Homo sapiens: one gene and its partners. The protein of the gene in region 3 purifies or fractionates together with the protein of the main gene of each other region. This does not show direct contact. Each region holds a gene or a part of one and is shown on either strand. Other genes may lie near its edges. The genes, in order: TNPO2, ABCB8, VSIG1, SLC35F2, DAGLB, PPP2R5E and TNPO3.

Evidence for each region.
Region 1: the proteins of VSIG1 (region 3) and TNPO2 purify together in Homo sapiens (affinity purification with mass spectrometry; 3 studies listed by BioGRID and IntAct, with this or other methods). This does not show direct contact.
Region 2: the proteins of VSIG1 (region 3) and ABCB8 purify together in Homo sapiens (affinity purification with mass spectrometry; 2 studies listed by BioGRID and IntAct, with this or other methods). This does not show direct contact.
Region 4: the proteins of VSIG1 (region 3) and SLC35F2 purify together in Homo sapiens (co-immunoprecipitation; 3 studies listed by BioGRID and IntAct, with this or other methods). This does not show direct contact.
Region 5: the proteins of VSIG1 (region 3) and DAGLB purify together in Homo sapiens (co-immunoprecipitation; 3 studies listed by BioGRID and IntAct, with this or other methods). This does not show direct contact.
Region 6: the proteins of VSIG1 (region 3) and PPP2R5E purify together in Homo sapiens (co-immunoprecipitation; 3 studies listed by BioGRID and IntAct, with this or other methods). This does not show direct contact.
Region 7: the proteins of VSIG1 (region 3) and TNPO3 purify together in Homo sapiens (co-immunoprecipitation; 3 studies listed by BioGRID and IntAct, with this or other methods). This does not show direct contact.

What each region holds. Positions count from the first base shown.
Region 1 is NC_000019.10:12,713,933-12,717,989, reverse strand, and holds part of TNPO2 (transportin-2), read left to right. Parts: intron 1-2,250; coding exon 2,251-2,357; intron 2,358-2,451; coding exon 2,452-2,585; intron 2,586-2,665; coding exon 2,666-2,747; intron 2,748-2,820; coding exon 2,821-2,943; intron 2,944-3,050; coding exon 3,051-3,169; intron 3,170-4,057. UniProt on the Homo sapiens protein: Probably functions in nuclear protein import as nuclear transport receptor. Serves as receptor for nuclear localization signals (NLS) in cargo substrates.
Region 2 is NC_000007.14:151,034,663-151,038,719, forward strand, and holds part of ABCB8 (mitochondrial potassium channel ATP-binding subunit), read left to right. Parts: intron 1-61; coding exon 62-167; intron 168-918; coding exon 919-1,080; intron 1,081-1,219; coding exon 1,220-1,305; intron 1,306-1,410; coding exon 1,411-1,508; intron 1,509-1,881; coding exon 1,882-1,987; intron 1,988-4,057. UniProt on the Homo sapiens protein: ATP-binding subunit of the mitochondrial ATP-gated potassium channel (mitoK(ATP)). Together with pore-forming subunit CCDC51/MITOK of the mitoK(ATP) channel, mediates ATP-dependent potassium currents across the mitochondrial inner membrane.
Region 3 is NC_000023.11:108,065,127-108,069,183, forward strand, and holds part of VSIG1 (V-set and immunoglobulin domain-containing protein 1 isoform 2 precursor), read left to right. Parts: intron 1-1,809; coding exon 1,810-2,008; intron 2,009-4,057.
Region 4 is NC_000011.10:107,792,690-107,796,746, reverse strand, and holds part of SLC35F2 (solute carrier family 35 member F2), read left to right. Parts: intron 1-3,946; coding exon 3,947-4,057.
Region 5 is NC_000007.14:6,413,271-6,417,327, reverse strand, and holds part of DAGLB (diacylglycerol lipase-beta), read left to right. Parts: intron 1-406; coding exon 407-487; intron 488-573; coding exon 574-701; intron 702-4,057.
Region 6 is NC_000014.9:63,379,057-63,383,113, reverse strand, and holds part of PPP2R5E (serine/threonine-protein phosphatase 2A 56 kDa regulatory subunit epsilon isoform), read left to right. Parts: intron 1-956; coding exon 957-1,058; intron 1,059-4,057. UniProt on the Homo sapiens protein: The B regulatory subunit might modulate substrate selectivity and catalytic activity, and might also direct the localization of the catalytic enzyme to a particular subcellular compartment.
Region 7 is NC_000007.14:128,999,191-129,003,247, reverse strand, and holds part of TNPO3 (transportin-3), read left to right. Parts: intron 1-2,013; coding exon 2,014-2,189; intron 2,190-2,680; coding exon 2,681-2,819; intron 2,820-3,957; exon of another isoform or gene 3,958-4,025; intron 4,026-4,057. UniProt on the Homo sapiens protein: Importin, which transports target proteins into the nucleus. Specifically mediates the nuclear import of splicing factor serine/arginine (SR) proteins, such as RBM4, SFRS1 and SFRS2, by recognizing phosphorylated SR domains.

The DNA of each region.
Region 1 (4,057 bases), on a different chromosome or scaffold from region 3:
TGACTTCTGGCTGGGTGTGGTAACTCACGCCTATAGTCCTAGCACTTTGGGAGGCCAAGGCAGGCGGATCACTTGAGATCAGGAGTTGGAGACTAGCCTGGCCTACATGGTGAAATTCCGTTTCTACTGAAAATACAAAAAATTACTTGGGAATTACAGCTGGTGGGCACCTGTAATCCCAGCTACTCGAGAGGCTGAGGCAGGAGAATTGCTTGAGCCCGGGAGGCAGAGGTTGCAGTAAGCCAAGATAATGCCACTGTACTCTATCCTGGGCAACAGACTGAGATTCCATCTCAAAAATAAAAAGTAACTTTTAGTCCTGCAAAAACCCCCTCCCAGGCCAGTAGTAGGATGTGGACTTCCTGAGCTCATTCTATGTGCCAGGCTCTTTGCTAAGTCATTGAAACTTACTGATCCAGGCTGAGCACAGTGGCTCACGCCTCTAATCCCAGCACCTTGGGAGGCTGAGGCAGGTGGATCACCTGAGGTCAGGAGTTCGAGACCAGCCTGGCCAACATGGTGAAACTCTATCTCTACTAAAAATACAAAAATTTGCTGAGTGTGGCAGCGGGCACCTGTAATCCCAGCTGCTTCAGAGGCTGAGGCAGGGGAATTACCTGAACTCGGGAGGTGGAGGTTGCAGTGAGCCAAGATTGTGCCACTGCACTCCAGCCTGGACTACAGAGTGAGACTCCATCTCAAAAAAAAAAAAAAAAAAAAAGAGAGAAAAAGAAACCTACTGATAACCTTAGTTAGGAGGCTGGTTTTCTTTATCTCTTCTGAGGGCTGGAAGCACTGAGGCACACAGAATGAGGGGGTGTGGCTAAAGTTCCACAATCCTCACTGTGTACCTACCCATTGCAGGGAGCACCTTTCTCTCGTTGAGTTTCCACCCTTGGGAAACACTGCCATCTCATGGCAGCAAATACCATCTCTGCACTTAACAGAACCCATATCCAGCTCTGTCACCAGATATGTGCACTGTCCTGGCACCTCAGATGCCTGCTGTATGTAACTCCTGGATATCTAATAGGCAGTACAAGCATCCCTGCCACCTTCCTGCCCTTACCTCCTTTCCCTCTCTCATCATGCCTGTCCTTACGCCAGGCCTTTGCACCATAGAGTCCCCTGCCTCAGATGCCCTTTCCCCAGAAACCTGGATGATTCCTCCCTCGCCTCCTTCACCTCCTTCAGGCCTTGGCTCAGATATCAAGATGTCACCTCAACGAGGCCTGCTCTGGCCACCCAATTTAAAGTTGCTACCTTCACCTACAGCCCTTTCTCACCATCTTTTCTGCTGTATTTCCCCCCTTAGTCCTTGGCATGTGGCCCCTCCCAGTTGTTTGTTTTTGTTTTGTTTGTTTTTGAAATGGAGTCTTGCTCCATCCCAGGCTGGAGTGCTGTGGCGCGATCTCTGCTCACTGCAACCTCTGCCTCCCAGGTTCAAGTGATTCTCCTGCCTCGGCCTCCCAAGTAGCTGGGATTACTGGTGCCCCCCACCACACCCAGCTAATTTTTGTATTTTTAGTAGAGATGGGGTTTCACCATGTTGGCCAGGCTGGTTTCGAACTCCTGACCTCAAGTGATCCACCCACCTCGGTCCCCCAAAGTGCTGGGATTACAGGCATGAGCCACCCATGCACGGCCCCTCCCAGTTTTTTTTGCTAATTTATCTTTACTTCATAGCTTGCTTCCAGCTCCCAAGGGTGAGGATTTTGTGTTTTGCTCTGTGCTGTGCCTCAGGGCCTGGAACAGAGTTGACTCACAGTAAGGCTCAGGGTGCCTACTGAGTCAAGGAGTACCCTTCTACCTATGTCAAGGCCAGGAGCGGTGGCTCACGCCTGTAATCTCAGTGCTTTTGGAGGCCAAGGCAGGAGGATTGCTTGAGGCCAGGAGTTTTAGGCCAGCCTGGGCAACATAGTGAGATCCCATCTCTACAAACAATTTTAAAAATTAGTTGGGCGTGGTGGCATGTGCCTGCAGTCCCAGCTACTTAGGAGGCTGAGGCAGGAAGATGGCTTGAGGCCAGGAGTTTGAGGCTGCTGTGGACTATTGATTGTGCCACAGCAGTCCAGCCTGGGCAACAGAGCTAATTCTATCTCTTACAAAGAAAAAAAAAAGGAGGGGGGATGTAGAGGGCGTACATGGGCTAGGGAACAGAAAGGCAGCACTGGGGGTGTCCAGTGGGAGGGGGAGGTGCTAGGCAGCCCCTGCCCAGCCTCAGGCAGCGTCCTTTCCCGGCCGCCCCAGGCATTCTCATCACCACCATCGCTTCCAAGGGTGAGCTGCAGATGTGGCCCGAGCTGCTGCCCCAGCTCTGCAACCTGCTTAACTCGGAGGATTACAACACTTGTGAGGTAGGCAAGAAGCCATGGATGGCCAGAGCGAGTACTGGGGGGCTGGGACCACCACCCACCACCCACGTTTGTCTCTCTGCCCCTCTGCACTCAGGGAGCCTTTGGAGCCCTGCAGAAGATCTGTGAAGACTCATCAGAGCTTCTGGACAGTGACGCCCTCAACAGGCCCCTCAACATCATGATCCCCAAGTTCCTGCAGTTCTTCAAGCACTGCAGTCCCAAGATCCGGTGGGTGCAGCTCCCTGGGGGCTTCCAGGGAGCCTGGAGTGGGCAGGGTCAGGGTGACCCACGTGTCTGCTCCCCGCCAGGTCCCACGCCATCGCCTGCGTGAACCAGTTCATCATGGACCGGGCCCAGGCGCTGATGGACAATATTGACACCTTCATCGAGGTGGGCCGCTGGGCTGGGGGTGGGCAGGGCGAGGACTGAGGGCCCCTACAACTGACCCTGTTCCTCCCTGCAGCACCTATTTGCCCTGGCTGTGGATGATGACCCCGAGGTGCGGAAGAATGTGTGCCGTGCCCTGGTGATGCTTCTGGAAGTGCGGATTGACAGGCTCATCCCCCACATGCACAGCATCATCCAGGTGTGCATGGTCAAGGCCAGCCCAGGCGGGCAGGCAGGGGGCCGGTGGCAGGGGTCAGGGAGCCACCCCCAGCCAGGCCAGGCCTCAGCTTCTCCCCCCTACCACAGTACATGCTGCAGAGGACCCAGGACCATGATGAGAACGTTGCCCTTGAGGCCTGTGAGTTCTGGCTGACGCTGGCCGAGCAGCCCATCTGCAAGGAAGTCCTGGCCTCCCATCTGGTCCAGTGAGTGCTGCTGCTGCCCACTGTCCTACCCCAGCTTCGACCCCTTGCTATGCCTCTGCCTTCCCTTCTGGTCACCTGCTGTGCTTCTCTCAGTCCACATCCTTGTCAGTTTACATTCAGTATATATTTATGTGTAAGTGGTAAGAATGCCACTTTTTGAAGACTTCAAAATTAGGTAACTGATAGGTGGAAAGAAATGAAAAATCAATGGCCACATGTGGTGGCTGACACCTGTAATCCTAGCACTTTGGGAGGCCGAGGCGGGCAGATCACAAGGTCAGAAGATCGAGACCAGCCTGGCTAACACGGTGAAACCCCATTTCTACTAAAAATATAAAAAAATAGCTGGGCGTGGTGGCAGGCGCCTGTAGTCCCAGCTGCTTGGGAGGGTGAGGCAGGAGAATTGCTTGAACCCAGGAGGCTGAGGTTGTAGTGAGCCAAGGTCGTGCCACTGCACTCCAGCCTGGGTGACAGAGCAAAACTCCGTCTCAAAAAAAAAAAAAAAAGAAATGAAAAATCAACAAAGGCTTCAGGGGTATGGCTGTATCCAGGAGCTCAAAGGATGTGAAAGGCATCTTTGTGGTCTCAGATCTGCTTCCCTTGTGTTGGCTTCATTCTTAGGCACAACCTTCCCTCTGGGTAGTGCTGTAGCCTTCTGTGCCCTTCCAGCTTAGGAACTTCAGAGTAAAGAAATTTTCGACCAGTGTTTCCAACAAAAGTCCTAAAACTGACCCTCCTTGACAAACTTGGATTGCTTGCCTCTCTCCAAATCATTTTTTTCTTTTTTATTTTGAGACAAGGTTTTGCTCTGTCATCCACGCTGGAGTGGAGTGTCAAAATCATGGCTCACTGCAGCCTTGACCTCCCAGCTGAAGCAATCCTCCTACC
Region 2 (4,057 bases), on a different chromosome or scaffold from region 3:
CCTTATCCTGAAGTAATGTCTCCCTCTTCTGCCCTCCTTATTGGTTCTTGTCCCATGCCAGACAAGACATCACCTTCTTTGACGCCAATAAGACAGGGCAGCTGGTGAGCCGCTTGACAACTGACGTGCAGGAGTTTAAGTCATCCTTCAAGCTTGTCATCTCCCAGGTCAGTGGCCCAGTGGCCCCCACCACGTCCACACACACACTTTCCCATGTGGATTCACCAGGCCAGCCCTGCCCGCCCCAGCCCTGATGTTGGGCTGACAGGCGCATGCTGACTCGAGAAACCCACTGCCTGTGAGGGCATGGGTGAGGGACCATGGAAGTTCATGGAAGGAAAGTGTAGAGGCAGTGTCCAAGGTCAGGACAGGCTGCTTCTCCACTGCTCTGAAACCGAATCTTCCCTGGAAAGCCTTCCCAAGCACTCAGACAAGAGCCTTTCCTGGCAAGAGCAAAATCACTTCGCCTGCCTTGTCCCCAGAGTGCCTGGATTGCTGACAAGCATTGAGCATGTGCAGTGGCCTACCGAACACAGATGCCCTCCCCTTATCCGCCCACACCGACTCTGACTGCTGGATCATGCCACACACTGGCCTAGGCAGTCACTGGTGTACCCCCATGCAGTTCTCTTTGTTCAGTTCCTAGAACAGAAAGAGAAGCAAGCTGGGATTTGTCTAGGGGAAGGATGCCACAGTTCATAGCATTCTCGCTCGGCCCCCTCAGGCCTGCTGCTCGCACCCCAACTGGCCGAGTTAGGGTTACGTACTGTGACCGGTGGACTGCCACTGGGCCTCCCAGGGGCCAAGACCTGGGCCTTGGCCGTGGGAGTGCAGAGCTACAGTCAGCTGACCCTTGGAAAAGTCCTTCCTGTCATGGTGCGGACGCCGTAGCCTCCCGCCTTCCCTCCCACTCCCTAGGGGCTGCGAAGCTGCACCCAGGTGGCAGGCTGCCTGGTGTCCCTGTCCATGCTGTCGACACGCCTCACGCTGCTGCTGATGGTGGCCACACCAGCCCTGATGGGAGTGGGCACCCTGATGGGCTCAGGCCTCCGAAAATTGTCTCGCCAGTGTCAGGAGCAGGTACCGGCATTCCTGGCCATCCTCTTCACCCTCCCCACACCGTTTCTCTTTCCACTCCCCGGAACTCCTCCCTGTCCCCATCCTGGACTCCTTGTCCTGTTTTCTGGACTCCTTGTCCTGTTTCCTGGACTCCTTGCAGATCGCCAGGGCAATGGGCGTAGCAGACGAGGCCCTGGGCAATGTGCGGACTGTGCGTGCCTTCGCCATGGAGCAACGGGAAGAGGAGTGAGTCCTGGGAGGGCGGAGCACAAAGCAGAGATGCCCCCCACACCCTGCCAACCCTTCGTGCCAGCCCAGCTGCCTCCTGAATGCACTGGTCTCTCTCACCAGGCGCTATGGGGCAGAGCTGGAAGCCTGCCGCTGCCGGGCAGAGGAGCTGGGCCGCGGCATCGCCTTGTTCCAAGGGCTTTCCAACATCGCCTTCAACTGTGAGTGAGCCATTTGGGGGCTGGAGGGGCGCTTGTGGGCTGGGGAGGAGCTGGGAGCAGCCAAGGCAGGCAAAGGCCCTCCCTTCATCTGCTGGCTGCCTGCATTCGCCTCGGGCCAGCTGCTAACTCTTGCAGGTAAAGGGAGGGTGCCGATGTCCCAACCCAGCTATGGGACTCCATGTGGAACGCTACAGGGCCACCCTCAAGGAGGCCATGGAGGCGTGCCCACCCCAACTTGCTCTTCCGAGGAGGAAGCCAACGCTGGGACCAGTCATGCGCCTCACCTGACTCTCCCAGTCAGCAGTGGCAGAGCAGGCCCAGGGCTGTTTCCTCTGCCCTGGCTTCGTCCTCCCTCACTTCCCCTCTCCTGCAGGCATGGTCTTGGGTACCCTATTTATTGGGGGCTCCCTTGTGGCCGGACAGCAGCTGACAGGGGGAGACCTCATGTCCTTCCTGGTGGCCTCCCAGACAGTGCAAAGGTAAGTGGGGGCCGTTCCCATTGCTACAGAGCCCCCTGCCGCCCTCCAGAGCCCTGCTGGGTTAGGGGACACGGGTGCCAGCCTTCTCTGGGGGCCGACTGCTGTGCAGCTCCAGGCCTGCCCAGCTTCCCCAGGGATGCATAGGGTGGGGAGAGAGAGCCCCTCAGGGCCCATAACAACCCTCCTGGCTGGGGCAGTGGCGCTGCAGCAGGCAGGTGCTTGTCATCTTCAGCCTTCCAAAGGACCCAGAAGTTTCCTTGACAGGCTTTTTAAAAATTTGTTTCAACTGTGGTAAAGTACACAAAACATAAAATACAGCATTTTAACCATTTTGAAGTGTGCAGCTCATGGGCAGTGGGTGCACTCACATTGCTGTGCGGCTGTTGTCACCGTCCGCCTCCAGAACTCTTACCTGGCAGAGCGGAAACTATCCCCATGACATGGGAATCCCCATTTGCCCTCCCCCAGCCCCTGGCACCCACCATTCCACTTTCTGTCCTTATGATTTGACAACTCTAGGGACGTCCTCTAAGTGGAGTCAGACTATGTCCTTTTGTGACTGCGTTTTGTCACTCCACATTGTGTCCTCAGCTTCCTCCGTGTTGCACCCTGTCCGAATTCCCTTCCGCTGCAGGCTGTGACATTCCATGCATGGAAGGACCATCCTTGACAGGCTGTGTGAGCTGCCCTTCCCCATGCCTGCCACTTCCAGGGATGACAAGCTGACCCCTGTCCCCACACACCCCACCCTTATAGCTTATTGCTTTGCGTTGGTCCAAAACCACCCGCTCAGCTGAGCCTCTGGGATGACCAGAGCTGATCACCAGACAGCTCAAGGCGGGCCTCCCCCCTCCTATCTCTTTCCAAGCTAAACACAAGCAGTTCTACATAAATATGTTATGGTAAATAATGAGATAGTAAATATGCTGTAACAGATCATCAAAGGGTGAAGACCCGTCTCCACGAACCGTGCATCACCTCTGCCACCCCATCCCTCCCCCCACGACCCCCCTGCTCTTCCACCGGGGCCCCCACCCCATTCTACTGAGGCATGTGTCCTCGCCCTGCTGCATGGTGCACCCCTGCGTGTGTGTCCGCCGGATCAGAACCCCTCACTGCAGGGTGTACTGTCCCAGGAAGCGGGAGGCGGACGGAGACAGGCTCCCATTTTCAGCCCCAAACCTGACATTCCACAGAGACGTTCCTCCCATTTCCGCAGCTGCATGGACACCCTCGCGTGCCCCGTTTCTGCTCGTGCTCCCTAATCTGAGCACCTTCAGACCCTTTCTGGTCCCGGGCTCAGGCCTCCTTGGCAGCCTCGCCCTCCTCCAGCCCAAGGAGCTGTTCTGTCGTGGCTTTGGAATTCAGATGCTCTCACTGTGATAGAGATGGGGTCTTGGGGGGCTGGGAGCTGTTCTGTCGTGGCTTTGGAGTTCAGATGCTCTCACTGTGATAGAGATGGGGTCTTGGGGGGCTGCCTCCACCACTGCCTGCCCTGCTCAGCGCTGACCCACTTCCCTTGACCAGAGTTTTGGCCTCTCTGAATGGGACGGTCGTTTTAGTCCTGAGGGCCCATAAGAAGCCCAGTGGCGGCTGGGTGCGGTGGCGCACACCTGTAATCCCAGCACTTTGGGAGGCCGAGGTGGGTGGATCGTGAAGTTAAGAGATCGAGACCATCCTGGCCAACATGGTGAAACCCCGTCTCTACTAAAAATACAAAAATTAGCTGGGCATGGTGGTAGTCCCAGCTACTCGGGAGGCTGAGGCAAGAGAATCGCTTGAACCTGGTAGGCAGAGGTTGCAGTGACCTGAGATTGCGCCACTGCACCCCAGCCTGGCAACAGCAAGACTCCGTCTCAAAAAAAAAAAAAGAAGCCCAGTGGCTCCCTTAATAAAATCACCCCTTAGCCCTCTGTGGTGGGCAGTGGTGGGACAGTCTCCCTGTGGGGAGGGTGGCTGCACTGTCCAGCCCCAACCCTCCCGCTTCGGGACCCCCACTTCCCCTTTAGGGCCTGAGACTCTGACTTTACCTCCCACCGTACTGCTTGGCCATCCAGCAGCTTTATGACA
Region 3 (4,057 bases):
TGGGATTTTTCCCTCAAAATCCAGCTTTCTGCCTTAGTTTTAAAATATATTGACTTTCTGCTTAAAGGAGAATACATTTGAATTCATCTAGACAATATCTTTTGGTTTTCTAATTGCTTTCCCTCTTTTATTGGCCTGTTAAGGTAAAGCCCACAGTACAAGGAATTAGGAAAATTGGATTCCAGATCTGTCTCAACCGTCAATTTTGCCTTTTATTTTTTAACCTCTCTGGGCTTTGGTTTCTTCTGTAAACTGAGGGAAGTGAATTAAATGAACTGTAAGGCCTTCCAGTAGATTTTATGAAAAATTAGTCTCACCAGACTAAGACAATACAGTTTATTGAACAATAACAATCACTTGAATAATATACATTTACATGAAACCAACAAAACATGTACATAGAAGGTGTGTATTATGAAGGGACCTCAGGAATTACCTAATCCAGTGATTTCCCAGCTTCAGTCATTCATGTACCATCTACATGATTTTTGTCATATTTGTGTATCACCAGCACTATTTGTTATTTAATGTTATTTTCTGTATTGACTTGTTTTCTTAAAATCTTAAAAAATATCTACCTTAATCTACCCTATGCAACAATATTCAGGAAGTCATAGATTTAATGTGCTAGATTTTTCTGTTTCTAATACACATTGAAATTTGTAAGTTTTCATTTATATACTACCTAAAATCAACTTAAATGCCTATACTTGGTAAATACATATCATACTTTGGAAAACATTACTCTCTTTTCTCATTCAGATGTGGAAAGTAAAGGTTGGAGAGATTAAATAACTTTGTTTCTTATCTAAAACCAGGCTGCCATGGAGGCATGACTAGAGGCCACCTCCCCTAACTATATCACAGTGAGGGGCAGAGCTGTGACTAACTCAAGCCACCTGACCCCTAGACCAGGACCCTTTCCACCACATCATGCTGCTCCCACAGTTGCCATTATGATCTAAGTATCTATGCTCTTTAATAGAAATGGGACTAGAATCCAGATCTTAAGTTTAATAAGTTATAATAATAATAAATGAGCCCTTGTGGCTTCAGATGGGTCACTTAATCTCTCTGGGTCTGAGATGCCTTATTTGTTTAAATGACAGAAGAATTCCAGTTCTGCCTTCTGCCACATGGGGAGAAAGATGGTAGCTATCATTGGCTGAGCACTTCCGAGGTCCTTTACTAGATTTCTTAGTTTCATCTTCACAACACCACTATAAAGGGATGGGACCAGATGATTTCTAAGATGCTTTTCCGCTTTGCTTCTAATAAACAAAACAAACCCAAGTTTGTCTATCCAAAAGAGTAGGTGTGTCTAAAAGGAGCATGAACATTTGAACATTTAAGGAAACCAGATAGTCTCACTGGGTAAGGTAAATTCAAATTTTAAGAAGTTTATAAAATGGTAAAAAAAAAAAAATGATGGTTTTGGTTTCCCATCAGACATTTGTGTTCTACATAATGAGTTTCTCTCAGGTGGATTCATTAAGTGAGCATCTTGATCTCCTAGCCCAAGCTTAGGTGTTGAATCCTGTCAGCTCCAGCTGCCTCCTCCTCTGTAAGATAGGCATACTAATCCCTGCCCTGATGACATCACAGAGCTGCTCTGAGGGCCAAATGCGCAGCTGTGAGCAAACTAAAGTGCCCCACTGAGTTGAGAAACCTTGGCCACAGGGACCTGTTCCTGGTGGGGGGAAGATGCTGCTTCTTTATCAAAGGTAATGTGTTTAGAAGAAGCTTTCAGGTAGCTTATCCTAGTCCTGGACTCTCTCCAGTTCTCACTTCTGTTATTTTTCTGTCTAGATTTACTTTTCTCAAGGTGGACAAGCTGTAGCCATCGGGCAATTTAAAGATCGAATTACAGGGTCCAACGATCCAGGTAATGCATCTATCACTATCTCGCATATGCAGCCAGCAGACAGTGGAATTTACATCTGCGATGTTAACAACCCCCCAGACTTTCTCGGCCAAAACCAAGGCATCCTCAACGTCAGTGTGTTAGGTATGAGCACTTTTTTCTGCTTTTTCTTTTCTTGGAAAAAGTTAGGACACTGAATGAGCCAGGACAGTGAGTTATGATGCCAATTAAGTCTCTGTAGGTAAATATACTCCCTAATATTTTCATTATCAGGGAAATAGAGACAAGCCACCAGCCCAACCAAAACAGTAACACTGAGAAATCACTCATAAAACATGCAGAACAATTGTGCAAACGGGCTGCCAAAATGACAGCAGTAGATGACCCAACCTCCAGTGATCCCTATCTCTGAGGGATGGAATGAGAACAGATGAGACAATCCACTGTCCCACAAAATGATCACTAGCAACTCTTTTAGAGGAAACCTCCATTTACAGCCAGATCTACCTGGGGGAGACTACTGTCAACTTATTATTCCTTTTAAGCTCGACACAATTCCCACCATTAAATTATTCTTTTAAATAAAGACAGGAGAGTCCCTTTTTTAAAATGCTAATGTTATTTGGAAAAAGGACTGAAATTAATCTAGTGTTGAGAATCAACATATTTACATACAAATATTCATTATATGATATTGGGCAAGCCGTATCTGCTCTTAAAATGAATTTGGAATCTCATTTGTTCAGTATTTATTGAGTTACAGTGATGGAGGTGTTGTTTTTGCCCTTGGGAAGCTCCCAATTTTGGCCATTTCTAGAAGTCCTTACAATCTCTGTCTGAGAGGACAATGTGGGCTAAACTTCCATCTGCAGGCTGGTATTGGGAAGTATCGAAGCAAGGGATGAAAGGGCTGCCAATCCTCAACTCTTACAGACAGACCAGTTGAGATGAGCATTTTCCCACTTCTAGGTAGCCCCAAATGAAGCTGATCTAGTCATTGCTGCTCTCAAGCTGTGTGCACACATCACAAGAAAGGAGGAACTACATCAAATCAGTGACTTAATAGTTGAGTAGCTTGGAAAAGCAGCAATTGGTAACAAGGTGCATACCCAAGAGAACTGTTTACAGTTGTCCTGGCTTGCCACTCAGGTAATGCCACAAAGGAACCAGCTGACATTTACTGTGAGGTTTGCCACTGCATCTACCCACCTGGGAAAGAGGGAAAGGTACCTAAGAGCTATTTTTTAAGAGTGGGTTAGCTTAATCAATCATATTTTTATCTTACTGAGTTCTGTGCCAGGAATTGGGGTACAGGAACAGACAAGAGAAGTATTACTCAAGCAAATTCCTGGGAGAGTTTCTGTTTCAGTTTGGAAGACTAGTGTATTAGTCTATTCTTGCATTGCTGTAAAGAAATACCTGAGACTGGGTAATTTATAAGTAAAAGAGGTTTAATTGTCTCACGGTTCTGCAGGCTGTACAGGAAGCATAGCAGCTTCTTGGGAAGCCTCAGGAAACTACAATCATGGCAGAAAGCAAAGGGGAGGCAAGATGTCTCACATGGCTGGAACAGGAGGAAGGGGAGGGGAAGATGCCACACACTTTTAAACAACCAGGTCTTATGAGCACTCATTCACTATCACAAGATCAGCACCGAGGGGGAAATCCGCCCCCATGATCCAGTCACCTCTCACCAGGCCCTATCGCCAAAATTAGTGATTACAATTTGACATGAGGTTTGGGTGGGGACACAGATCCAAACCATATCAACTAGTTAGTTATATACATGGGAACTAAGTGATGTGCTATAAATGCCAAAGCATCAAACTGGCACTCAGAAGACCTGAGTTTTAGATCTTACTCTGTACTCAGTGACCTTATACAAGTCAGTCCACCTTTCTCTGACCATTGTGAGATGGGGTTATAATTTCTGCCCTGTCTTCTTTACAGGTTTGTTATGAACAGTTTTGTTATTTTACCTATAAAATGAAATACTGGAGATCAAAGGGGTTTTTAAATGTTCAAAAACTGGAGGGATTAGCTAATGATTTTCTGTTGCTTCCTGGTTCTGGGATGTTCTGACCAGAAACAATCTAAAGAAGCCAAGTCTCTTCATCTCAGAGCTTGGAAATAGCCCTGAGATAAAGTTAGACAAGAAGGTTAATATTCTTAAATTTAAAGCTCAGAGGATCC
Region 4 (4,057 bases), on a different chromosome or scaffold from region 3:
CAGTGAGCTGAAATTGAACTACTGCACTCCAGCCTGGGTGACAGAGCCAGACCCTGTCTCAAAACAACCACCACTACAAAAACCTAACCTCTCTTTATCTCCCACCCCCAATCCACACATCCTCCACAGCCTCTGATATCTGTCATTCTATGCTCTACCTCCACAAGATTGACTTTTTAAGCTCTCACATATGAGTGAAACATGCACTATTTGTCTTTCTGTGCCCTAGCTTATTTCATTTAACATAATGACCTCTAGTTCCATCCATGTTGCTGCAAATAATAGGATTTCATTTTTTTGTGGCTGAATAGTATCCCATTGTGTTTATATATCATATTTTCGTTATTCATTTGTCCACTGACGGACAGTTAGGTTGATTCCATATCTTTGCTATTGTGAATAGTGCTGCAATAAACAGATGAGTGCAGGTATCTCCCTTTGATATACTGATTTCTTTTCCTTTGGATAAATACCCAGTAGTGGGATTGCTGGATTGTATAGTAGTTCTATTTTTAGTTTTTTGAGAATCTCCGTACTGTTTTCCATAGTGGCTCTACTATACTAATTTACATTCCCACCAGCAGTATTTAAGAGTTCCCTTTTCTTTTTCTTTTCTTGAGATGGAGTTTTTGCTCTGTTGCCCAGGCTGGAGTGCAGTGGCATGATCTCGGCTCACTGCAACCTCCGCCTCCTGGGTTCAAGTGATTCTCCTGCCTCAGCCTCCCGAGTAGCTGGATAGGTGCCACCACCACACCCAGCTAGTTTTTGTATTTTTAGTAGAGATGAGGTTTCACCATCTTGGCCAGGCTGGTCTCGAACTCTTGACCTCAGGTGATCCACCCGCCTCAGCCTCCCAAAGTGCTAGGATTACAGGCGTGGGCCACCGCACCTGGCCTAAGAGTTCCTTTTCTATACATCCTTGCCAGCATGTTATTTTTTGACTTTTTAATAATAGCCATTCTAACTGAGGTAAGATGATATCTTATTGTGGCTTTGATTTGCACTTTCCTGATGATTAGTGATGTTGAACATTTTTTCATATACCTGTTGGCCATTTATGTCTTCTTTTGGTGAATGTTTATTCATGTCCTTCGCCCACTTTTTAATAGGATTATTTGTTTTTCACTCTTTAGTCATTTGAGTTACTTGTATACTCTGGTTATTAGTCCCTTGTTGGATTAATAGTTTGCAGATATTTTCTCCCATTCAGGAGGTTATCTTTTCACTCTGTTGATTGTCTTCTTTGCTGTGCAGAAACTTTTTAGTTTAATATAGTCCCATTTGTCTATTTTTGTTTTTGTTACCTGTGCTTTTGAGATGTTAGCCATAAAATCTTTGTCTAGACCAATGTCCTAAAGTGTTTCCCTGTGTTTTCTTCTAGTAGCTTTATAGTTTTGGGTCTTATATTTAAGTCTTTAATCCCACCTTGAGTTGATTTTTTTATATGGTGAGAGATAGGAGTTCATTTTCATTTTATACTAATACCATGCTGTTTTGGTTGCCCAGCATTGCTTTGGCTATTTGGGCCCTTTTGTGGTTCCATATGAATTTTAGGATTGTGTTTTCTGTTTATGTGAAAAATAACATTGATATTTTGATAGGGATTGCACTGAATTTATAGATTGCTTTGGGCAGTATGCTCATTTTAATGAGATTAATCCTTCCAGTCCATAAGCATGGGTGTTTCCATTTGTGTCATCTTCAATTTCTTTCATCAGGGTTTTGTAGCTTTCCTTATAGAGGTCTTTCACCTCCTTGGTTAAATTTAGTCCTATTTTATTTTGTGTAGCTGTTGTAAATGGGATTGCCTTCTTGGTTTCTATCTCAGCTAGTTCATTATTAGTGTATAGAAAGGCTACTGATTTTTATATGTTGATTTTGTATCCTACAACTTTACCTAATTTATTGATCAGATCTAAGAGCTATTTTGTGGCATCTTTAGGTTTTTCTGGATATAAGATCATGTCATCTACAGAGAGGGATAATTTAACTTCTTCTTTTCTAATTTGGATGCCTCTTATTTCTTTTTCTTGCCTAATTGCTCTGGCTAGGACTTCCAGTACTATGTTGAATAGGAGTGGTGAAAGTGGGCATCCTTGTTTTTTTCCAGTTCTTAAAAGTAAGGCTTTTATATTTTCCCCATTCAGTATGATGTTAGCTACTCCATTCCTAATTTTAAAATCAGGTTAGCAGGATTAATCATAAGTTGAGTTTGCTTTTCCAGTTGAAAGGAAAAATAAGGCCCTGGGTATTTGATTACACATTAGTTACAGTACATAGTTTCTCTAATTTTTAGTACACCATTCTTGGTCAGTCTTTAGCCACTCTCTTTCTGTGCTTTATCATGCTGCTAAACATACATACTGATGGCCAGGCGTGGTAGCTCACGCCTGTAATCCCAGCACTTTGGGAGGCCAAGGCGAGCGGATCACAAGGTCTGGTGTTCGAGACCAGCCTGGCCAACATGGTGAAACCCCGTCTCTACCAAATATACAAAAATTAGCCAGGCATGGTGGTGCATGCTTGTAGTCCCAGCTACTCGGGAGGCTGAGGCAGAAGAATCGCTTGAACCCGGGAGGCAGAGGTTGCAGTGAGCCAAGATTGCGCCATTGCACTCCAGCCTGGGAGACAGAGCAAAACTCTGTCTAAAAAAAAAAAAAAAAGAAAAAATACAGACTGATTTCTTTAATACTTCAACTTTTGTATGGATTTTCAACTCAAGAGGAAATATACAAAATTCTTAATAGAATTTATTTAGACTTTTGGGGTATATCATTTTTCCATATATATACCCAATGAATTAGTGTTCTTTCCTCATTGCATTTTGCTCTGGGTGGTGGTTTTCAGTCTTAGGAAGGGGAAAGTTGGGGAAGGTCACCAAAAACTCCATCCATACTTTTAAAATTTCTGTCAGAATGGGCTCCTGCTCTTTTTGGTCCTTCTGGGAACAGAGAGTGTATGAGATGCCTCTCACAGGGCTCTGTTTCCTATGATTGTCCTCACCGGACCTTACACTCAGTCACCTCTTTGGGCTTTGGACTCTTCTAGTATCTTAGGCTCTTTCTAGCTCTACAATTCTGAATCTGCTCAGTCCACCATAAATTTTACTATGTAATACTTGCCCACAGAGACAAGATAATGTATTAAATTTTAGCAAAATGAATTTCATTGAATAGCACACATTGAGAGGCTGTTGAGCAGATGCCCCTTCTGTACTTCCACATTTCATCATAGTCTTACGTTCCTCTGCTTCATACCAATATTGTAAGCAGTGTCTAGGGTCTGAATGGGGCTCTCTGTGGTATCCATGATGACCTTTTATTTTCTCCACTAAGTGGGACTATATGCAGAGTGGGGTGTAGCTGGATTATGACAGAGAAAAGCAAAGGTCCATTTCTCCTAAAGATCCAAGGATCCAGGTGGCTTATGTGCCGGGTGCTGTTGGCAGAGTCCCATCATTCACCAGCATACATGGGAAGGTTTTGTGCATTAGCATCTCCTTAGGTAACTTTCAGAAAAAAGATCATGAGGCCAGGCATGGCGGCCCACGCCTGTAATCCCCCGCACTTTGGGAGCCTGAGGCGGGCGGATTGCTTGAGCTCAGGTGTTCGAGACCATCCTGGGCAACATGGAAAAACCCCGTCTCTACAGAAAACACAAAAATTGGCCGGGTGTGGTGGTGAGTGCCTGTGGTGTCAGCTACTCTGGAGGTTGAGGCGGGAGGATCACTGGAGCCTGGGAGGTGGAGGTTGCAGTGAGCCGAGATTGTGCCACTGCACTCCAGCCTGGGCCACAGAGCGAGACCCTGTCTTAAAAAGAAAGAAAGAAAGAAAGAAAGAAAATAAAAAGATTATGAGAGGGTAATCCTCGAAGCACAGTTGGCAAAAGCCAGCAGCAAAGATGTGTATGTGAGGGGCACAATTCACTGCCTGTTCTTCCCTTCTAGTTTTCAGGACTCTACATCCTGTCCTTCACTGTCATCATGGTGGGGTTTATCCTGTACTGCTCCACCCCTACTCGCACGGCCGAGCCGGCTGAAAGCAGCGTGCCTCCAGTC
Region 5 (4,057 bases), on a different chromosome or scaffold from region 3:
CTCAGCCTCCCGAGTAGCTGGACTATAGGCGCTCGCCACCAAGCCCCGTTAATTTTTTTTTTTTTAGTAGAGTCAGGATCCAGGCTGGTCTTGTATTTTTATTTTAGTAGAGACTATGTCGCCCAGGCTGGTCTTGAACTCCTGGGCTCAAGTGTCCTCCTGCCTTGGCCTCCCTAAGTGCTGGGATTACAAGCGTGCGCCACCACACCTGGCACCTGCTTCACGTCAGGCGCTGTGCAAGGTGCCAGGAGCACAGCCATGCACGATGGACGTGGCTGCTGATTCTGCAGTCTCAGATCCCAGGAGAGACTCACACATCAGTGCACAGCGTCATCCCATCTTTGAGTCTCTGCTGGGCCTGCCTTGTCTGAGGATTAACGGCCACCTTCTTTGTCTGTGTTTTTAGGGTATTTCTCAAGCTGCCAGATACGTTTACCAACGACTCATCAACGACGGGATTTTGAGCCAAGCCTTCAGCATTGCTCCTGTGAGATCTTAGTTAACGTTTCTTTCCTTGTCCTCTTTGGAGCTGTTGTTTTTACCCTTCACCTCATTCTGCTGTCTGTCCTCTAGGAGTACCGGCTGGTCATAGTGGGCCACAGCCTCGGGGGCGGGGCGGCCGCCCTGCTGGCCACCATGCTCAGAGCCGCCTACCCGCAGGTCAGGTGCTACGCCTTCTCCCCACCCCGGGGGCTGTGGAGGTGAGCCTTTGTTTTCCTGCTCTAACAGCTTGCTACTTACAAGTCATGTGGTCAAGACTCATCTTTTTTTTCTTTTATTTTCCTGAGATGAAGTCTTGCTCTGTCGCCCAGGCTGGAGTGCAGTGGCGTGATCTCGGCTCACTGCAAGCTCCACCTCCCAGGTTCAGGCGGTTCTTCTGCCTCAGCCTCCCGAGTTGCTGGGACTACAGACACCCGCCAGCATGCCGGCTAATTTTTGTATTTTTAGTAGTGGTGGGGTTTCACCATGTTGGCCAGGCTGGTCTTGATCTCCTGACCTCAAGTGATCTGCCCGCCTCGGCCTCCCAAAGTGCAGGGATTACAGGCGTGAGCCACCGCACCCAGCTGAGGTTTGTGTTTTGAAGCGCTATTTCACAGAAGAAAGTCTGTCTAGCCTTTCTTAGACCTATGTGACCATACCTGTAATTTCCTCAATGATTTAATTCTAAGAGTCTTTTTTCAAACAGACTTTATTTTTTAGAGCAGTTTTAGGCTGACAGCAAAACTGAGCAGCAGATTGTAGGGATCTCTCATACCCTCCCTCCCCACAAGCAAGCACAACCTCCCCCATTCTCACAGCCCTGGCAGAGGGGTCCGGTTGTTGACATCCATGCGCCTGGTAGGCACATCGCCCAGAGCCCGTAGTATGCTGAGCACTCCCTCCGCCCTCTCGGGGGGCATATGCCCTGGGTGGGGACACATGCATAATGCACATGTTTAAAGACATTTTTATGAGTTTGAAAATTACTTTTTTTTTTTTTTTTGAGACGGAGTCTTGCTCTGTCGCCCAGGCTGGAGTGCAGTGGCGTGATCTCGGCTCACTGCAACCTCCGTCTCCCAGCTTCAAGCGATTCTCCTGCCTCAGCCTCCCGAGTAGCTGGGACTACAGGCGCCCGCCACCACACCCGGCTAATTTTTTGTATTTTTTTAGTAGAGACGGGTTTCACCGTGTTAGCCAGGATGGTCTCGATCTCCTGTCTTCTGACCTCATGATCCGCCACCTTGGCCTCCCAAAATGGTGGGATTACAGGCATGAGCCACCACGCCTGGCTGAAAAGTTTATATTTTTTTTTGCTGATTCCAGCATACTGACTGTTCTGTGTAACCTTTTGCCATGATTATAAAGGAAAATTATACCACTTTATTTCATTAAAATGAAATAAAGGCCAGGCGTGGTGGCTCATGCCTGTAATCCCGGCCCTTTGGGATGATTAAAAAGTATGTACGTAAAGAACAAAAAGAGCTTTTCTTCGCACACTTGGTTTCTTTGACATATAGTTCACACAGGAAAAAACAGGAGAATGTATAAGTGCTTAAATCTTTCCCTCAATAAAGAAGTGTTCAGAATAATGAATTGTTGCCTAGCAGTCTACAGAGGCAGACATTAATTTTTTAAAACTTAAATTTCAGTCGTCTGTTTTCTTGCTGTCTTTTTTTTTTTTTTAATTGACACAGAGTGTCACTCAGTCTCCCCAGCTGGAGTGCAGCAGCACAGTCATGGCTTGCTGTAGCCTCTGCCTCCTGTGCTCAGGTGATCTTCCGGCCTCAGCCTCCCAAGTAGCTGGGACCATAGGCGCACACCACCACATCCAGCTAATTTTTGTAAGGAACAGGGTCTTGCTATGTTGCCCAGGCTGGTCTTGAACTCCTGGGCTCAAGTGATCCTCCTGCCTCACCCTCCCAAAGTGCTAGGATTAAAGGTGTTGAGCACTGTGCCTGGCCTCATTTTCTTGCTTTCTCAAGAATATTCTCAAGTTTTGGGCTTGAAATGAGCAAGTATTTTTTTTTTCCATCGTCCATATCTGGAATCAACCGTTTCTCCAAGGAATATTGGTTCCTTTTAGCAGGAAATGGTATTTCTGAACTGAAATCGGGGCACTGGTAGTTCTCATTACCACAGGGCTGGTCATAATTTCCAGGCCTTTTCATTGGAAAGAGGTAGGAAAGGCTTTTGTTACACCAAAGAGAAAATGTAACTGTAGTGTATAGTGATACTTAAACATCAGGAGGCTGGGCATGTTGGGTCACACCTGTAACCCCAGCGCTTTGGGAGGCTGAGGCAGGAGGATCACTTGAGCCCAGGAGATCGAGACCAGCCTGGGCAACATAGACCCGGTTCCTTACAAAAATTAGCTGGACGTGGTGACGTGTGCCTGTGGTCCCAGCTACCCGGGAGGCTGAGGCAGTAGGATTGCCTGAACCCAGGATGAAGAGGTTGCCGTGAGCCGAGATCGTGCCACTGCACTCCAGTCTGGGTGACAGAGCTACACTCCGTCTCAAAAGAAAAAAAAAAAAAATTGGCCGGGTGTGGTGGCTCACACCTGTAATCCCAGCACTTTGGGAGGCCAAGGCCGGCAGATCATGAGGTCAGGAGATCAAGACCATCCTGGCTAACACGGTGAAACCCTATCTCTACTAAAAATACAAAAAATTAGCTGGGCGTGGTGGTGGGCGCCTGTAGTCCCAGCTGCTTGGGAGGCTGAGGCAGGAGAATGGCGTGAACCTGGGAGATGGAGGTTGCAGTGAGCTGAGATTGTGCCGCTGCACTCCAGCCTGGGAGACAGAGCGAGACTCCATCTCAAAAACAAAAAAGTCCTTTCTGTCACCCCAGAGGTAGAATGTGGTGGTTTTGACTGGTGTTTCCATTATGTCCATGGCTGGAAGGAAGCGTGTCTGTGTTCCTCTCCTCCTGTTGATGAAAGCCTGCACCTTTTCCCTGCTCTTCTGTCTCTGGTCGTGGCTGTTCACTTTCACCGCATGTCCTGAGATGACCCCGCAGTGGCACACACAGTCCTCCTCCTTCTCCCAGCTGTGCGGGACGCACTATTATGTGACTCGTTGTTGGGAGCTGAAGGCAGTTCTGTGGATGGGTGTTTGGAGGCTCCAGCCTCTGCCGGTGCAGGTTCTGCCGCAGTGAATCGCCTGTTGCCTCTGCCCCTTCATTTTTGCTGGGGCATCTTTTTTTTTTTTTTTTCTTTTGAGATGGAGTCTCGCTCTGTCGCCCAGGCTGGAGTGCAGTGGCGCGATCTCAGTTCACTGCCAGCTCCGCCTCCCGGGTTCATGCCATTCTCCTACCTCAGCCTCCTGAGTAGCTGGGACTACAGGCGCCCACCACCACGCCTGGCTAATTTTTTGTATTTTTAGTAGAGACGGGCTTTTACCGTGTTAGCCAGGATGGTTTCAATCTCCTGACCTTGTGATCCGCCTGCCTCGGCCTCCCAAAGTGCTGGGATTACAGGCGTGAGCCACTGCACCCGGCCTCCAGTGCATCTTTGATGGAGTCTTCCAAGCGCGGTTTCTGGGTCAAAGGACAGATCCATGTGCTTGGTCCGCCTTGG
Region 6 (4,057 bases), on a different chromosome or scaffold from region 3:
GGCTGTTTAGCTGTATAGTGTCCCATAGCTAATAGCAACCATCCCAGCTTGCCAGTTATCAGCATATATTTTGGGTCAGCAGGACTGGTGCAGATCAGAGCTAGACAGATAATTCATATTGAACCACCCAACCTACATGAGGGCTTGATTTCATTTCTTTGGATAAGAATAATTTATATATATACACATATATATATAACATTTGTTTCTAGGGAAGTAGCTTCTGATTTTGATGAATTATGTGTTATTTAGAAAATAGAATTCTATGCAAATTCAGATGTCTAAGGTTAGTGCTATCACAGATCCTTATTTTAGGGTGAAATTGCTTTACTATTATACTTGCCTTTTTATTAAATGAAATTATCAAATGCCCACAGGCAGCTCTATTCTGGGTGCCAATAATTAGAAGGGCAGGCCAGGTGTGGTGGCTCACGCCTATAATCCCAGCACTTTGGGAGGCCGAGGCAGGCAGATCACCTGAGGTTGGGAGTTCGAGACCAGCCTGACCAACATGGAGAAACCTCGTCTCTACTAAAAATACAAAATTAGCCAGGTGTGGTGGCTCGCTTCTGTAATCCCAGCTACCCAGGAGACTGAGGCAGGAGAATTGCTTGAACCCAAGAGGCGGAGGTTGCGGTGAGCCAAGATGGTGCCATTGCACTCCAGCCTGGGCAACAAGAGCGAAACTCCGTTGCAAAAAAAAAAAAAAAGAAATTAGAAGGGCAAAGTTAGATTTTTTTTCTAGTTCTACCACCCCTCAGAAAATTATCTTGCCTTGAAATCTCTTGATGTGGAAATGAACTGTAGGTCATTTTCAGTTGTTCCAACTAAAAAAGGATACAGACAGTGTGCAGTACGAGAAATCATTCAGACAAAAGTTGTGCTTTTGCTTTCTTCATTCAGTATCCCATTTTATAAGACTAACTAACACACTCCTTTTTTTCTGTGCTTTCCAGGGCTATTGTGGCGTTGGTGTACAATGTGTTGAAGGCATTTATGGAAATGAACAGCACCATGTTTGACGAGCTGACAGCCACATACAAGTCAGATCGTCAGCGGTAACTTTTTAAAGCTTTTTTGTCAGCTGTGCATAAAGCTATTGAGTTTTTTCCTTGCTCTTTGCTGAAGTTGCCTAATTGTACCCCAAATCTTAAGCAGCACAATTTTGTTTACAGTCATGCATTACTTAACAACCAGTATATGTTCTGAGAAATGCATCCTTAGGCAATTGTATTGTGTGAACATCATAAGTATACAGTAATTACACAAACCTAGATGGTGTAGCCTACTATGACACACCTGAACTATGTAGTATTGCCTGTTCTTCCCAGGCTACAAACCTGTGGTGAATACCGTAGCCAATTGTAACACAAATCACTAGGCAGTAGGCCTTTTTCAACCCTGTTAAAATTTTATGGGACCACCGTGGTATATGTGGTCTGTGTTGACCGAAATGTTGTTATTTGGCACATGACTGTATTTATATATTCATTTTTGCACACTTATTAACTGTGTCTTTATTTATTTATTACTGTGCCACTGAGTAACAAAGCTTCCTGACACTCATTTTGATAAAGCCCGCTTTCTTTCCTTTCTTTAATAATATTTCACTTCTGCCTCAGGGTTAAGAGCCCAGCATTTAACTGGTATTTTAGGTTCACTTAAAGGGACCATCAGGTAGTTTGCTCTCTGGGATTCACTCCCACTCTGAACTTACTTGAAGTATAATTGGGCAGATCTTGTACTTCACTCCAATAGCAGGGGGAATGAGGCACCATTTATCTAGCTCTTGGGCCCAGGACTTACTAGAACCCAACAAATTTATTACAATTTAAAGATCAGTGAAAAGAACATGAAGGTTAATAGTCTGGTATTAACCAGAAATGTTTGAGACCATATGGGAGAACAAACCAGTGGAACTCTTTGCAATAAATGCTTATGGCTTAGTAAAAATCTTGTCCAATGCATTCTACTTTCCAAAAGATGTACTTGGGGAGATTATAGAAGTCTAGAGAGCTCTTAGTAGTTGCGCCTGTGGTTTGGCTTTGATCATCCATAAGCAGATGTCAGCTTTGTATATCATAAAGCTATGGACCTTAGAGGACCCAGAGATGTGTGCGAGTGTTCATACCCAGGGTCTTGCTGAACCTCTCTGGTTCCCTTGGTGCTTTGCTTTGTCTCATTTTTAGTCTGTCAACTTGCATTTTATTGATAAAAAGAGCAATGAGGGGAAAGGTTTGATGGCAGAGGGACCATTGCAATGATTTTTTTGTTTTAAGTTACCAGGGATGTGGTTTATGAAAACCAACTTAATTATGGAATGTGGTGAGTATTTAGCTGAGAATCTCAGAAGAGGCTGGGATTTTTTACCCAGAATATTGGGATTATTATCAATTATGGGATATGTTATTCCATACTCACAGTTTAAACAACTTTTTTTTTTTTGTTTTTTGAGATGGAGTCTTGCTCTGTTGCCCAGGCTGGAGTGCAGTGGCGCGATCTCAGCTCACTGCAAGCTCCGCCTCCCAGGTTCATGCCATTCTCCTGCCTCAGCCTCCTAAGTAGCTGGGACTACAAGCACCCGCCACCACGCCTGGCTAATTTTTTGTATTTTTACTAGAGACAGGGTTTCACTGTGCTAGTCAGGATGGTCTCGATCTCCTGACCTCATGATCCACCTGCCTCGGCCTCCCAAAGTGCTGGGATTACAGGCGTAAGCCACCGCGCCCAGCCCTAAACAACTTTTAATTCAGTATATTAGCGATTGTTGCAAATTATAAATTTATGATAACCCTCCTTGCCCCAAACTTAAAATCTTTAAAGGATGTTACTTAAAAAAACGGCCAAGGGTACATTTTAATACTGTGTTGCATCGTTAAAGGTGCTTTGTGCATAACATCTTCTCTGAAAGCACATTATTATTATCCTAGTTGAACCAGGATTAAATCCGTAGAATCTCATCAAGAATATTGAAGAACTTGGCTGGGCACGGTAGCTCACGCCTGTAATCCCATCACTTTGGGAGGCTGAGGCGGGCGGGTCATCTGAGGTCAGGAGTTCGAGACCATCCTGGCCGAATGGTGAAACCCTGTCTCTACTAAAAGTATGAAAATTAGCCAGGCACGGTGGCATGCGCTTGTGGTCCCAGCTACTAGGGAGACTGAGTTGGGAGGGTCAGTTGAACCCGGGAGGTGGAGGTTGCAGTGAGCTAAGATCATGCCACTGTACTCCAGCTTGGACATTGGAGTGAGACTCTGTCTCAAAAAAAAAAAAAAAAAAAAAAAAAAGAGAGAGAATATTGAAGAACAACTTATTTCCACTCAAATTATTTGGTTTGTATTTAGTGAACTTCAATAATAAAACTATTTTCTGGTTATTATCTAAACTAAATAGACTAAACCCTTGAAAAAGATGAGAATTAACTAAGGGGACCAGGAATAGATAAAACTATTATTTTATCTATTCCTGGTTGAGGTTGATTATGATATTCTGGCATATTACAGTTATTTATAATGAGTGTACTTTCTTAATGAGAAAATGGGGGCCAGGCGTAGTGGCTCACGCCTGTAATCGCAGCACTTTGGGAGGCCAAGGCAGGCGGATCACCTGAGGTTGGGAATTTGCGACCAGCCTGACCAACATGGAGAAACTCCATCTCTACTAAAAAATACAAAATTAGCCGGGCGTGGAGGCACATGCCTGTAATCCCAGCTACTCAGGAGGCTGAGGCAGGAGAATCACTTGAACCCGGGAAGGGGAGGTTGCCATGAGCAGAGATTGCATCATTGTACTCCAGCCTGGGCAACAAGAGGAATCCCAGCTCTTTGGGAGGCCGAGGCGGGCGGATCACGAGGTTAGGAGATCGAGACCATCCTGGCTAACATGGTGAAACCCCGTCTCTACTAAAACTACAAAAAATTAGCAGGGCGTGGTGGCGGGTGCCTGTAGTCCCAGCTACTCGGGAGGGTGAGGCAGGAGAATGGCGTGAACCCAGGAGGCAGAGCTTGCAGTGAGCCGAGATTACACCACTGCACTCCAGCCTGGGCGACAGAGCGAG
Region 7 (4,057 bases), on a different chromosome or scaffold from region 3:
TACTATTTATTTATTTATTTTTGAGACAGAGTCTCCTCCCTCTGTCGCCCAGGCTGGAGTGCAGTGGCACAATCTCGGCTCACGGCAACCTTCGCCCTCTGGGTTCAAATGATTCTCCTGCCTCAGCCTCCTGAGTAGCTGGGACTACAGGTGTGTGCCACCACACCTGGCTAATTTTTTGTATTTTTTTTTTTTTTTTTTTTTTTTTGAGAGGGAGTCTCGCTCTGTCGCCGGGGCTGGAGTGCAGTGGCGCCATCTTGGCTCACTGCAAGCTCTGCATCCTGGGTTCATGCCATTCTCCTGCCTCAGCCTCCTCAGTAGCTGGGACTACAGGAACCTGACACCACGCCCGGCTAATTTTTTGTATTTTTAGTAGAGATGGGGTTTCACCGTGGTCTCGATCTCCTGACCTCGTGATCTACCGGCCTCAGCCTCCCAAAGTGCTGGGATTACAGGCGTGAGCCACCGCGCCCGGCCAATTTTTTGTATTTTTAGTAGAGACAGGGTTTCACTGTGTTAGCCAGGATGGTCTCGATCTCCTGACCTTGTGATCTGCCCACCTTGGCCTCCCAAAGTGCTGGGATTACAGGTGTGAGCCACCATGCCCAGCTCGAACACTGACTTTTTATAACTTGGTAATATAATGAGAATCTTTGAACCTACTATTCAATCTAAGAATACCTAATAAATAATTTGCATCTTTGTGCTCTCCCAAACCTGCTTATATACCTTTTTGTCCCACTGGAGATTTTAAATATCCTTTTAAAAAAATTATTCAAGGAAGACTAATACGCCCTTACTAAGTGTATTCAACCTCTCAACTGTACTCTCTTCACTAGAAACCCGGGAGGATTCCCTTCTTGGACCTTTTGGTCTGCTCTGATTTGCATCAGTTGTTCTTTAGATCTACTCCCTGTCATCTTGGGACTTGTCTTTACTGTGCTTTCTGGATTAGGTTAGCTGTTTCTCAAACCCCCTCAAATAACTTCTTCAGAAAAGATATAATGGAAAGTAAACTTGGAATTTTTGCATGCCTGAGAACTATTTTTATTTTGCTTTCGATCTTGATTGATGGCTCAGCTAGGTATTAAGTTGTAGGCTGAATATTATTTTCCTTCAAAATTTCAAAGGCCTTGCTCTCCTTTACTAGCATGCATCATTGTTAATGAAAAGTCAGAGAACTCTGAATTCTGCTCCTTACTATTACCTCCTCCTCTCTTCCCCTGAAATTTTACAGACCTTTGTTTAACTCTGGTATTCTGAAATTTCACAATGATGTGTTTAGGTATGTGTCTTTGATACTTGTTGAGCCCTTTCATTTTAGGTAGTACTTGAGTATCAGAAAAAGGATGGAAAAGATTTTTCACACACTAGAATAGGGTAGGGAACACATGGCTTTCCATTTGGAGGGGCTGGTGTGAACAAGAACATGGAGATTAGAAATGATACGACCATGACTTCGGGACAGAAAGGCTGATTTGCTTGACATATAAGGAAATAGAAATAAGATTGGGAAGATTGATGGATGTTGTCTCATGGAAGGCTATGACTTGACTGTTACACATTTAAAGTACATGTTCAGAAAGAGGCTATAATTGAAAGAAAGAAAGAGGCTCTAATTGTTTTCCTATTACATTTATCCATCACTATCTTCAAAGGATTGGTTCCAGGACCACCCACTACCCCTGCCCCTCTGTGCACAGTTTCCAAGAGATGCAGATGCCCAAGTCCCTTATATAAAATGGTGCAGTATTTGCATATAACCTATCCACATCTTCCCATATACTCTAAATCACCTGTAAATTACTTATAATACCTAATACAATGTAAATGCTATGTAAATAGTTGCTATAGGGTAATTTTTAAATTTGTGTTTTTCATTGTATTATTATTTACTTATATTTTGAATATTTTCTATCGATGGTTGATTGAACCCTAGGGTGTGCAGGGCCAACTGTAGATCACTCCTTAGTGATCATACTTCTTGCTTCCCTATTCCTGCTACCTCCCCAGCAACAGGATAAGACCTCGTCTAACCTACATGAAGCTGCTTCGGACTGTGTATGCTCAGCTCTCTATGCCATTGAGAATGTGGAGACTAACTTGCCATTAGCCATGCAACTTTTTCAGGGAGTGCTGACATTGGAGACTGCCTATCATATGGCCGTGGCACGTGAAGATTTAGACAAGTGAGTAATTGTTTAAGTCTGGAGCCCTGGGTTTACCTACAGTCTGGTCATTCTTTTAAGTCACTTTTTATTATTCGTCTGTCATTTGTGATTCTCAGTGATTCTGTAAAGTACAGATAGTGCTTCCTAAAGATGCTCTACTATGCTCTTCTGAACCTAGAGTGGCAAATTGGGTGCAGGGTTTGTAGAATTACCATAGAAAGGTAAGGCTTTAAAAGTTGGAGACAAATTTTAAAATATCAAGTGTGATTTGATGGGAGTTTTTATTCAAATGTTTTAATAATTGAGAATTTGAACTGACAAGTCACTTGCGTAGGAGTGTACGATCTAGGTAAAGGTGTCTGTCATGGGGATTGTGATACAGCATAGTAAATAATCACTAGATGTCCCTTAGACTGAGGAACCTTTTATTTATTTGATTAACTGTGCCTGTATATACTTATAATATCCAGATTTCTGACTCATTGTTCTCATTCCCCTGTCTTCTACAGAGTTCTGAATTACTGCCGTATTTTCACTGAACTATGTGAAACTTTTCTTGAAAAAATTGTTTGTACTCCAGGCCAAGGTCTTGGGGACCTTCGAACTCTGGAGCTGCTGCTTATCTGTGCAGGCCATCCTCAATATGAGGTAGTGTTTATGCTATTCAAAGGCCATTATTCTCCAAGTTGTGTGCTGCATATTATCTATATTTCATTACCTCGTGCCCAAATTTTTATTGTTGAGAAATTACAGTCTTGTTTTTAATTAATGTGATTTCATCTGTTTTGGAATTTTTTAAAAAAATTATATTTGGGTTTCTGCATTGTGTCCATTTCTGTTTTCTTACCTGGTTGGCTGGGCTGTTGTAGGCCCCTCAAGGAACTCGTTAGAAAGCAAGCCTTTCCAATGAACCCCTTGTCTAGCTTGACTTATTCTCTAGAGTGTTACAGCTAAAAAACACCAAATTCTAACTATACCTCCACAAGTCTTAACACCCCCAATTTTTCTCCAAATGATGGATGAGAATGACAAAGGGATTGAAAGGACTTAAGGGTCTCTGTCATTCAGAATCCTTGACATCCTACTTACCGAGGTTTGCTAGATTTTTTAAAATCTCATTTATTTGAGAAGTTTTACCTCTTTATAGTATAAGAAATGAGAAAGGGTCGGGGTTGGTGGCTCACACCTGTAATCCCAGCATTTTGGGAGGCCGAGGTGGGCAGATCACCTGAGGTCAGGAGTTTGAGACCAGCCTGGCCAACATGGTGAAACCCTGTCTCCACTAAAAATATAAAAATTAGTCAGGCGTGGTGGCTCACACCTGTAATATCCCAGCTACTTGGGAGGCTGAGGCAGGAGAATTGCTTGAACCTGGGAGGCAGAGGTTGTAGTGAGCTGAGATCGGGCCACTGCACTCCAGCCTGGGAGACGAGCGAAACTCCGTCTCAAAAAAAAAAAAAAAAGTGAGAAAGAAGTGCTCCCAAGTTGGGCATTGTTTTAAATAGCTCTGTTTTGGATCCTTGATGGGAAAAGGATGGTAGGGATCCTCTTACTGTGCCTTAGGCACAGTGGTCCTGTGACTCTCGGCCTGTTTTCTGTTATCACATACAAGACAACGTTTATTTGTTTTACATAATGTTACGAGGATACCTAGATTTGAATGGAACCCAAAACATTTCTGGGAGAATGTAACACCACGCAGTTATCACTCCTTTAAACAGTACCATATGGAAAAGAGGCTACGAGTAAAATCCCAGGCTTTTTCTCCCTTTCTCTCACACTCAAGGAAACAGGTGAATAAAAGTGACATGAAGCTGAATCAGTTATGTTCAGGAGTTACAGATGGTTTGCCAAGTAAGAAATGTTCTAATCTCAAACATTCAATG